Linked DNA regions of Homo sapiens. The protein of the gene in region 2 purifies or fractionates together with the protein of the main gene of each other region. This does not show direct contact. Each region holds a gene or a part of one and is shown on either strand. Other genes may lie near its edges.

Region 1 (5,242 bases), on a different chromosome or scaffold from region 2:
GTTAATTGTTTTCAAGTGTTCAGAAATTTTTCAGTTAAGTCAAAGTTACCTATTGTGTTATTCAAATTATGTATCTTAACTAATTTTTTCTTTTTAATCTTGTGATCTAGTTACTGAGATGTTTTTACATCTCATGATTCTTGGTTTTGTTAATTTCTCTTTAAAATTCTTTTGATTTTTGTTTTATCCAAAGGCTATATTAGCTACATATAGGTATACGATCATCATATTTCCTTATTAGATTGTTTTATTATTATATCCCTCATACATGCTTTATTCATCTCTATAAATACTTTTTTCTTAAGTTCTATTTTATTTGTTAATATGGCCGCTTGGTAGTTGTCTCACATGTCTTCTGTTTCTTTATTTTCAGCCTTTATATATGTTATTTTAGTTTGGGTGTATCTCTTATAAATAGCAGTATGCTTTTACTCCAGTCTATCAGTCTTTGAGTTCAATATGTTTATTGTTACTGCTGATAATTCTTGGACTAATTTCTCCTGTTTTATTTTTTATTTCCTATTTTCTGTGCTTTTGCTTTTCACTTTCTTTTATTTATTTATTTTTTTTGAGGCTGAGTCTCACTCTGTCGCCCAGCCTGGAGTGCAATGGTGCAATCTCGGCTCACTGCAACCTCCACCTCCCGGGTTCAAGTGATTTCTCCTGCCTCAGCCTCCTGAGTAGCTGGGATTACAGGCGCCTGCTACCATGCCCAGCTGATTTTTGTATTTTAGTAGAGACGGGGTTTTACCTCCTTGGTCAGGCTGGTTTTGAACTCCTGACCTCAGGTGATCCACACCCCTCGGCCTCCTAAAGTGCTGGGATTACAGGCATGGGCCACTTCCCAGCAGCTTTTCACTTTCTTTCTTCCTTTTATTGGATTACTCCTGCTTTATTCCTGCACTTTCCTCCTTACCCTTTTTTTCTCTTTCAAGTTTGGATATTATTTCTTCCATTTATGTTCTCTTTAACACGATGTCTAATGGTAAAATTAACCAGTGTCTCTTCCATCCTCCCAAACAATATAAATGATGTCTTAATTTAATTACAGTGTTGAAAAGGCTATTTATTTTTATTTTTATTTTTTTGTTGGAGATAGAGTCTCTTGCTCTGTTGCCTAGGCTGAAGTACGGTGACGTGATCTAGGCTCACAGCAACTTCCGCCTTCCAAGTTCAAACAATTCTCCTGTCTCAGCCTCCCAAGTAGCTGGGACTGCAGGCAGGGGCCACCATGCCCGGCTAATTTTTTTGTTTTAGTAGAGACAGGGTTTCACGTATTGGTCAGGCTGGTCTTGAACTCCTGACCTCAGGTGATCCATCCACCTCAGCCTCCCAAAAGTGCTGGGATTACAGGCGTGAGTCACCACACGCGGCCAAGGCTATGTGTTTTTATAAAATGTTTAGTTTCTATGGCTGTATCTTTCCTTACATCTTTCAAACTAGTAGTGAACATCAGACTTTATGTGGATGTCCAGTTGATATTTCAAACAATATTTTGAGACAACTTATATTCATCTTCCCACAAATGTTCTTTCTAAGTTCTTACAAAAGTTCTATATGTTTCACATGTTAATTAGTGGCATTTTAGCTTTGCTAACCATTCTTTTAATTCTGCTTCTAAGTTGTTATCTTTTGTATTCATAGTTTCACAGTCCCTTATAAACTCTCACTTAGATTATTGTAACTACATTCTGTTTCCACTTCTTATTCCTTGTGTCATGCCTTGATATTTTAACCTTCAGTCTTTGTTGGAGTTACCTTCACTCACAGTTTGAATTTTCCCACAAAGTTAGAATGCTTCTTTTCTTTAGCATAGTATTGAAATCCTCTGTGTCTTAATTAATTTTAGTCATCATTTCCCATTATATATTGTTACATACCCAATTTTCCAACTACATTGTTTTTATTTTTCTTTTTTTAAGACGGAGCTTCACTCGGTCACCCAGGCTGGAGTGCAGTGGCATGATCTTGGCCCGCTGCAGCCTCTGCCTCCTGGGTTCAAGTGATTCTCCTGCCTCAGCCTCCTGTGTAGCTGGGACTTCAGGCACGCCCCACCACGCCCGGCTAATTTTTGTGTTTTTAATAGAGATGGGATTTCGCCATTTTGGCCAGGCTGGTCTGGAACTCCTGACCTCAGGTGATCCACACACCTTGGCCTCCCGAAGTGCTGGGATTACAGGCTTGAGCCACCATGCCCGGCCCCAACCACATTGTTTAATTACCATTTCCAGTAATAGAAGGCACTTGTAAATATCATAATGATCAAACAGTTGTTCTGTGCCTTCACTCAGGAGTGCACTTTCCCTCCATTCCTCGACTCATTCCTAATGCAGCTTTCAAGGTCTAGTTCTAATTCTACCTTCTTGAAACCGCTCTTGATTTTTTTCTCCACTCCAGCCAAAATTAACCACTCCTTTTTTGTAGTATCTTGCAGGTATTTCTATCTGTCTCCAAATTTCTTCTGTCATGTTTAGTGAGTAGCTGATGTATGTATCTCCCACTATATAATAAACTTGGGCAGATAGGAATCATGTCTGTTCATATACTTATTCCACAGTACTGTGTACTTAATTTGCTCACCATATGCTTATTGAATTGAAGCTAGCCAGGCATAGGAAACAGATAAAAATTAAATGGGTCAGTTTTATTATAATAATAATTATTATTATTACTATTTTGAGATGAGGTCTCACTCTTTTGCCCAGGCTAGAGTGCAGTGGTATGATCTCAGCTCACTGTAACCTCTGCCTCCTGGGCTCAAGCAATTCTCCTGCCTCACCCGTGTGATTGAGACTTCAGGCTTACACTGCTGCTTCCGGCTAATTATTTTAGAGATAGTGTTTCATCATGTTGCCCAGGGTGGTCTCGAACTCCTGAGTTCAGGTGATCCACCCACCTCGGCCTCCCCAAGTGCTACGATTATAGGGATTACAAGCGTAAGCCACCGCATCCGGCCTGGATCAGTTTTATTAAGACTAACATGTACTTGAAAATATATTAAGTTCCTGGCAGTGGCACTTAAATTACATTAGGCTGTCTTAAATAAAGGATTGTAACTGAATAATCAAGGAGCATAACAGTGTGTTGTAATGGTTTAAAAAGCCTGGGCTCTGGCATCAAGCTGCAGAATTTTAATTCTACTTACTAGTAATGTGATCCTAGGTAAGTTATTTACCTTCTCTCTGCCTCAATTGTCCTAACTATAAAATTGGAATGGTGTTATAGCACATATCTCATACAATGTTTGAGAGGATTTATTGAGTTAATATGTGTGAAACATTTAGAACAGTGCTTATGGCACAGAGTAAGTGTTGAAATGTTGACCACCATCAACAGCAATATAATTTTACTCTTATGTAAGTGGGAGGCAAAATTTTTTCTTTGGTGGAAACAGGCAGGAGTTAGAAACTTTCTTCTTTTTTTTAAATTTATTTTTAATTAATTAATTTATTTTTTTTTGAGACAGAGTCTTGCTCTGTCTCCCAGGCTGGAGTGCAGCGGTGCCATCTCGGCTCACTGCAAGCTCCGCCTCCCGGGTTCACACTATTCTCCTGCCTCAGCCTCCCGAGTAGCTGGGACTACAGGCGCCCGCCACCACGCCCAGCTAATTTTTTGTATTTTTAGTAGAGATGGAGTTTCACCGTGTTAGCCAGGATGGTCTCGATCTCCTGACCTCGTGATCTGCCTGCCTCTGCCTCCCAAAGTGCTGGGATTACAGGCATGAGCCACTGCGCCCGGCCATTTTAATTTTTGTTTTCTTATTGACTCGTTGTTTCACCACGGTACCCAGGATAGTCTCGAACACCTGGGCTAACGATCCTCCTGCCTCAGCCTCCCAAAGTGCTGAGATTATAGGTGTGAGCCACTGCACCTGGCCTAGAAACTTTTAGTTGAGTCTTACTCTTAGATTTCTGAGGTATAGAGGTATTTAGAAAAAGATGTTTTAAAGACAGTGCTCCAGTCTTACTAAACAATTAGGCATTTTGGGCCGGGCACAGTGGCTCAAGCCTGTAATCCTACCACTTTGGGAGGCCAAGTCGGGTGGATCACTTGAGGTCAGGAGTTCGAGACCAGCCTGGCCAATGTAGTGAAACCCCGTCTCTACTAAAAATACAAAAATTAGCTGGGCGTGGTGGTGGGAGCCTATAATCCCAGCTACTCAGAAGGCTGAGGCAGGAGAATTGCTTGAACCCGGTGAGGCAGAGGTTGCAGTGAGCCGAGATCACGCCACCTCACTCCAGCCTGGGCGAAATAGCAAGACTCTGTCATACATACACAGAAATAACCAGAACTTGGCATTTCCTGTGTCAGTTTAAATTAGGAAAGTGTTGTTATAAACATACATGTGCTTATTTAAGGATTTTTTGGAAATATGTTTTTGTTCAAGATTATAATAGCTTTGCTAGTAAAAATATTAAAAATAAAATACAATAAAAAATACAAGTACTCTTACATTCATCAGATTCATAAAACCTTCTTTGACTACTTTCTGCATTCATGAGCTCTTCTCTTACCTTTTGTTTCTTTGATATCTTTTCACACTACACCTTGCTTTATAATTCTTTGTGTGTGTGTTTTATTCCTCAACTCAATCTGAGAGGAGTTAGGAAGAGTGTGTTAGACTTTTTTGCATGTCTTATGGCACTATGTATGATATCCCATGCACGATAGGGACTAAAATTATTTGCTAATGAATGAATAAAAGTTACTTACAGCTAGGCGTGGTGGCTCACGCCTGTAATCCCAGCACTTTGGGAGGCCAAGGTGGGCGGATCACCTGAGGTCAGGAGTTCAAGGCCAGCCTGGCCAATGTGGTGAAACCCCGTCTCTACAAAGATAACAAAAATTAGCCGGGCATGATGGCGGGTGCCTGTAATCCCAGCTCTTCAGGAGGCTGAGGCAGGAGAATCGCTTGAACCCAGGAGGCGGAGGTTGTAGTGAGCCGAGATTGCGCCACTACACTCCAGCCTGGGCGACAGAGCAAGACTAAAAAAGAAGGAAAGTTATTTACTAACTGAAATGTAGATTTTAATGTTCATAAATTTTTTAGTGTGTGTAAAAGTTGGTTACATGTGAAATATGTCACCTGACTTATCACAAAGATCATGTTAGCACAAAATCCTAAACTAAAATCTGCCTTTGGTCTTTCCTTCAGTTTTGCTTTTTCTTACAGGGTTCTGTATCTTAGAGGACTTAGGTAATAAAAGTAAGAATTAGTGCCTAAGTCTTGAGTACTGCTTTC
Region 2 (5,242 bases):
AGCTGAACTGCATTATCTGTAGGATGCAGAGAAAAGCGGATAATAGATCTGGGAGGGCCTTTCATGGTGGCTCACACCTGTAATCCCAGCACTTTGGGAGGCTAAGGCGGGTGGATGGCTTGAGCCTAGGAGTTGAAGACCAGCCTGGGCAACATGGTGAAACCCCATCTCTACAAAAAATTGGCTGGGCATGGTGGTGCCTGACTGTAGCCCTGGCTAGCAGGGAGGCTGAGGTGGGAGGTTTACCTGAGCCTGGGAAGTTGAGGCTCCAGTGAGCCATGATCCTGCCACTTCACTACAGCCTGGGTGACACAGTGAGACCCTGTCTCAAAAAATAAAAATAAAACTAAAGATAGATCTGGGAGCCAAACAGAGTAAGAAACACATTGTTTACCATGTAAACAGGGTCTATATAGAAGTAGGGCCAGGAGCTGTGGCCCACATCTGTAATCCCAGCACTTTGGGAGGCTGAGGCAGGAAGATTGCTTAAAGCTATGAGCTTGAGACCAGCCTGGGCAACAAAGCGAGACCCAATCTCTATAAAAAATAAAAAGGCTGGGCATGGTGCCTCCCGCCTATAATCCCAGCACTTTGGGAGGCCAAGGTGGGAGGATTGTTTGAGCCCAGGAGTTTTGAGACCAGCCCGGGCAACATAGAGAGACCCGTCTCTATTAAAAATAAAGAAAGGAAATTAGCCTGGTGTGCTGGTACACACCTGTGGTCCCAGCTGCACAGGAAGGTGAGGTGGGAGGATCCCATGAGCCCAAGACTTCGAGGCAGCAGTGAGCTATGATAGCGCCACTTCACTCCAGCCTGGGCAACAGAGTGAGACCCCATCTCTTAAAAAAAATTATTTTTTAATAAAAATAAAGTCAGTGAAACCTCAGCTGAAATTGCAATAAAATTTCAATTTCGGCCTTATTTGACATCCATTTTCATTTACTTGAGAAGTTATCTATGCCATGTATTGTGTATCTCAGTAGATGTGACATACTAACAGTAAGAGCAATTGCATTGTACGCTCTTCTCTAACAACACTGACTGCAGAGACATGTAGTGTATTTTTTTCATCATCTGTTGAATTACAAAGCATGGAGACAGATGAAACATGATTCTATTGATTATATGAGTAGAACTCTCACATAATCTGGTTGTCTACTTTTCTGGGTGGTGGTGTTTGTTTGTTTGTTTGTTTGTTTTTGAGATGGAGTCTCGCTCTGTTGCCAGGCTGGAGTGCTGTGGCGCGATCTCGGCTCACTGCAACCTCTGACTCCCTGGTTCAAACAATTCTCCTGCTTCAGCCTCCTGAGTAGCTGGGATTACAGGCACGTGCCGCCACGCCCAGATAATTTTTGAATTTGTTAGTAGAGACAGAGTTTTACCATGTTGGCCAGGCTGGTCTCAGTCTCCTGAACTCATGATCCGCCCACCTCAGCCTCACACCCGGCTTTTTTTTTTTTTTGAGATGGAGTCTCACTTTGTCACCCAGGCTGGAATGCAGTGGCACAGTCTTGGCTCATGGCAACCTCCGCCTCCAGGGTTCAAGCAATTCTCCTGCCTCAGCCTCCTGAGTAGCTGGGATTACAGGCGCCCACCACTAGGCCCAGCTAATATTTTGTGTTGTTTTTGTTTTTGTTTTGAGACAAGAGTCTCTGTCTCTTGCCCAAGCTGGAGTGCAATGGTGCGATCTCGACTCACTGCAACCTCTGCCTCCCAGTTTCAAGCAATTCTCCTGCCTCAGCCTCCCGAGTAGCTGGGATTACAGATGCCCATCACTGTACCCAGCTAAATTTGTATTTTTAGTAGAGACGGGGTTTCGCCATGTTGGCCAGGCTGGTTTCGAACTCCTGACCTCAGGTGATCTGCCTGTCTCAGCCTCCCAAAGTGTTGGGATTACAGGCGTGAGCCACTGCACCTGGCCTAATATTTTGTATTTTTAGTAGAGATGGGGTTTCACCATGTTGGCCAGGCTGGCCTTTAACTCCTGACCTCATGATTCGCCCACCCCAGCCTTCCAAAGTGCTGGGATTACAGGCGTGAGCCACTGCACCCGGCCCATTTTTGTTTGTTGTTTGAAGTATGCGAGTATAATTAAAGGAATATTGATGGTAGAAATGGGAGAAGAAGTTTGTCACATAAATCATGTAAGAGTTCCTGTTGGGATAACAATAAAAGATTTATATTCCATAATTAACCTAAATAATTTTTATTTTTTTTAAATTAGGTTGTTGCTTGTGAACTTGACCCAAGGCTAGTAGCTGAACTTCACAAAAGAGTTCAGGGCACGTGAGTATACATAATAGAATTAAAGTGCATTTCAATCTCATGAAACAACATTCTTTTTACATTTCTTCTTTTCTCATCAGGCCTGTGGCCAGCAAACTTCAAGTACTGGTGGGTGATGTGCTGAAAACAGATTTGCCATTCTTTGATACTTGTGTGGCAAATTTGCCTTATCAGGTATGTCCTCACATTTTCAGGAACATCATACTAACTGTTCCTCTGATGTGTCTTTCCCGGAAATAACTAGTTAATTCTCTTACAGATCTCTTCACCTTTTGTCTTCAAGCTGTTGCTACATCGACCTTTTTTCAGGTTTGTGACAAAAGACTAGAGTTACTGCCAAATTTTGAAAGACTTACAGTTCAGGTGGTGAACATAGCCAAAAATGAGTCAGGTCAGTTGAAAAACTACTGAAGAATTTTTGTAGAAAATGTTGATTTGTATGGAGGTCTTTCTCTCTTTAATTGAGAGGTTATTTGGGGGTAGTGTGCTGGAAGTCCTGCTTCTGAGACCAGACAGCCTTTCCCTATTTTTGAATCTTCCTGCCGTTAAGTCTAGGTTAGAATTTTTATTACCTTATGTCTAGACAATTGCAGTGGTTTCCTAACTGGTCTCTAGTATAAGAGGTCTTCAAAAAGTTCATGGAAAATGTGTATTATGAAAAAAACTTGCATGGATTTCAAAATTTTTTTGCACCAAAATAAACTCTGTACTAACTGAGCAGGATCTAGTGTGAGGCACTGAGAAGGATAAGACATCAGTTTGAAAAGAGCCCCTATCAGAGCAACATGAACTCTGCTAAAATTCAAGTAAGAACAAACATCCAATTTATGGTGAAACCTGGTTGGAAGAATGGTGAAATCATTGATGCTTTACAAAAAGTTTATGGAGTCACACCTGTAATCCCAGCACTTTGGGAGGCCAAGGCAGGCGGATCATGAGGTCAGGAGATCGAGACCATCCTGGCTAACATGGTGAAACCCCACATCTACTAAAAATACAAAAAACTAGCCGGGCGTAGTGGCGGGCGCCTGTAGTCCCAGCCACTCGGGAGGCTGAGGCAGGAGAATGGCGTGAACCCGGGAGGCGGAGCTTGCAGTGAGCCGAGATCGCGCCACTGCACTCCAGCCTTGGCGACTGAGCGAGACTCCGTCTCAAAAAAAAAAAAAAGTTTATGGGGACAATATCCCAAAGAAATCAGCAGTTTACTAATGGATAACTCATTTTAAGAAGGGCTGAGACAATGTTGAAGATGAAGCCTACAGTGGCACACTGGCCATATCAATTTGTGGGAAAACATTCATCTTGTTTGTTCCCTAAGTGACGAGGAACAACATTCAACAGCACAAACAATAGCCAACACCATAGACATCACAGTTGGTTTAGCTTACACAATTCTGACTGCAAAATCAAAGTTAAACAAACTTTGTACTTGATAGATGCCAAAACTGTCATACCCTCTTTTCTGAAAGATTTTATGAAAAAACAAAACAAAAAACATTGTACTCAAATCAGCTGCAGATAAAAGCAGAGCTTCCAGTGGAAATTTTACATAACTGGGATCAAGATCCTGAAACATGGCTGGGTGGAGTGGCTCACACCTATAATCCTAGCACTCTGGGAGGCCGAGGCGGGCAGATCACTTGAGGTCAGGAGACCAGCCTGGCTAACATGGTGAAACCCCATCTCTACTAAAAATAAAAAAATTAGCTGGGCATTGTGGTGGGCACCTATAATCCCAGCTACTCGGGAGGCTGAGGCAGGGGAATCGCTTGAACTCAGGAGGCGGAGGTTGTAGTGAGCCAAGATTGTGCCACTGCACTCCACACTCCAGCCTGGGCAACAGAGCGAGATTGTCAAAAAAGAAAACAAGATCCTGAAACATTTCTTCAAAGAATTACAAAGAATTGTAATGGAGATGAAATATGGCTTTACCAGTGTGATCCTAAAGACAAAGCAGAGTGAAAGTGATGCCTACCAAGAAACGGAGTGGCTCCAGTCAAAGCAAAAGCAGACCAGTCAAGAGCAAAGGTCATAGCAACAGTTTTTTTTTGAATGCTCAGGGCATTTTGCTTGCTGACTTTCTTTAGGACCAAAGAATGAAAACATCTGCTTATTACAAGAGTGTTTTGAGAAAGTTAGCTAAGATGTAGCAGAGTAACTCCTGGGAAAGCTTCCCCAGAGATTCCTCCACCATAATACTTCTACTCCTTCCTCTCATCAGACGAGGGCAATTTTTCGAGAGTTTCAATGGGAAATGGTTAGGTATCCACCTTACAGTCCTGATTGGGCCCCTTCTGACTTCTTTTTATTTTATGAGACAGTCTTGCTCTGGTGCCCGGGCTGGAGAGCAGTGGTATGATCTGCACTCACTGCAGCCTCCACTTCCTGGGCTCAAGCATTCCTCCCACCTCAGCCTCCCAAGTAGCTGCGATTACGGGCATGTGCCACCACACCCAGCTAATTGTTGTATTTTTTTTAGAGATGGGTCTTGCCATGTTGCCCAGGCTGTCTCCCCCTCCTGAGCTCAAGTGATCTGCCCACCTCAGCCTCCCCAAATGCTGGGATTATTACAGGCATGAACCATGGTGCCCAGCCCTTCTGATTTATTTTCGTTTCCCAGTCTTAAAAAATCTTGAAAGGGCACTCTTTTTTCTTCAGTTAATAATGTAAAAAAAAAAAACCTGCAGTGACATGGCTAAATTCCCCAGAGCCTCAGTTTTTTTGATATAGACTAAAATGCTGGTATCATCACTTACAAAAGTGTCTTGAACTTGATGGAGCTTATGTTGAATAATAAAGTTTATGTTTTTTCTTTTTTTTCTTTTTCTGAGACAGGCTGGAGTACAGTGGTGACATCTCAGGTCACTGCAACCTCAGCCTCCCTGGGCTGGGCTCAGATGATTCTCCTACCTCAGCCTCTTGAGTAGCTGGGACTATGGGGGTGTACCAGCATGCC

Evidence for each region. Proteins that work in one complex are often made in the same cells at the same time.
Region 1: the proteins of DIMT1 (region 2) and MTPAP purify together in Homo sapiens (affinity purification with mass spectrometry, with the first as the bait; one large-scale study listed by BioGRID). This does not show direct contact.

Annotation. Positions count from the first base shown.
Region 1 is NC_000010.11:30,331,338-30,336,579, reverse strand, and holds part of MTPAP (poly(A) RNA polymerase, mitochondrial precursor), read left to right. Parts: intron 1-5,242. UniProt on the Homo sapiens protein: Polymerase that creates the 3' poly(A) tail of mitochondrial transcripts. Can use all four nucleotides, but has higher activity with ATP and UTP (in vitro). Plays a role in replication-dependent histone mRNA degradation.
Region 2 is NC_000005.10:62,395,864-62,401,105, reverse strand, and holds part of DIMT1 (dimethyladenosine transferase), read left to right. Parts: intron 1-2,224; coding exon 2,225-2,286; intron 2,287-2,366; coding exon 2,367-2,460; intron 2,461-2,545; coding exon 2,546-2,595; exon of another isoform or gene 2,596-2,677; intron 2,678-5,242. UniProt on the Homo sapiens protein: Specifically dimethylates two adjacent adenosines in the loop of a conserved hairpin near the 3'-end of 18S rRNA in the 40S particle.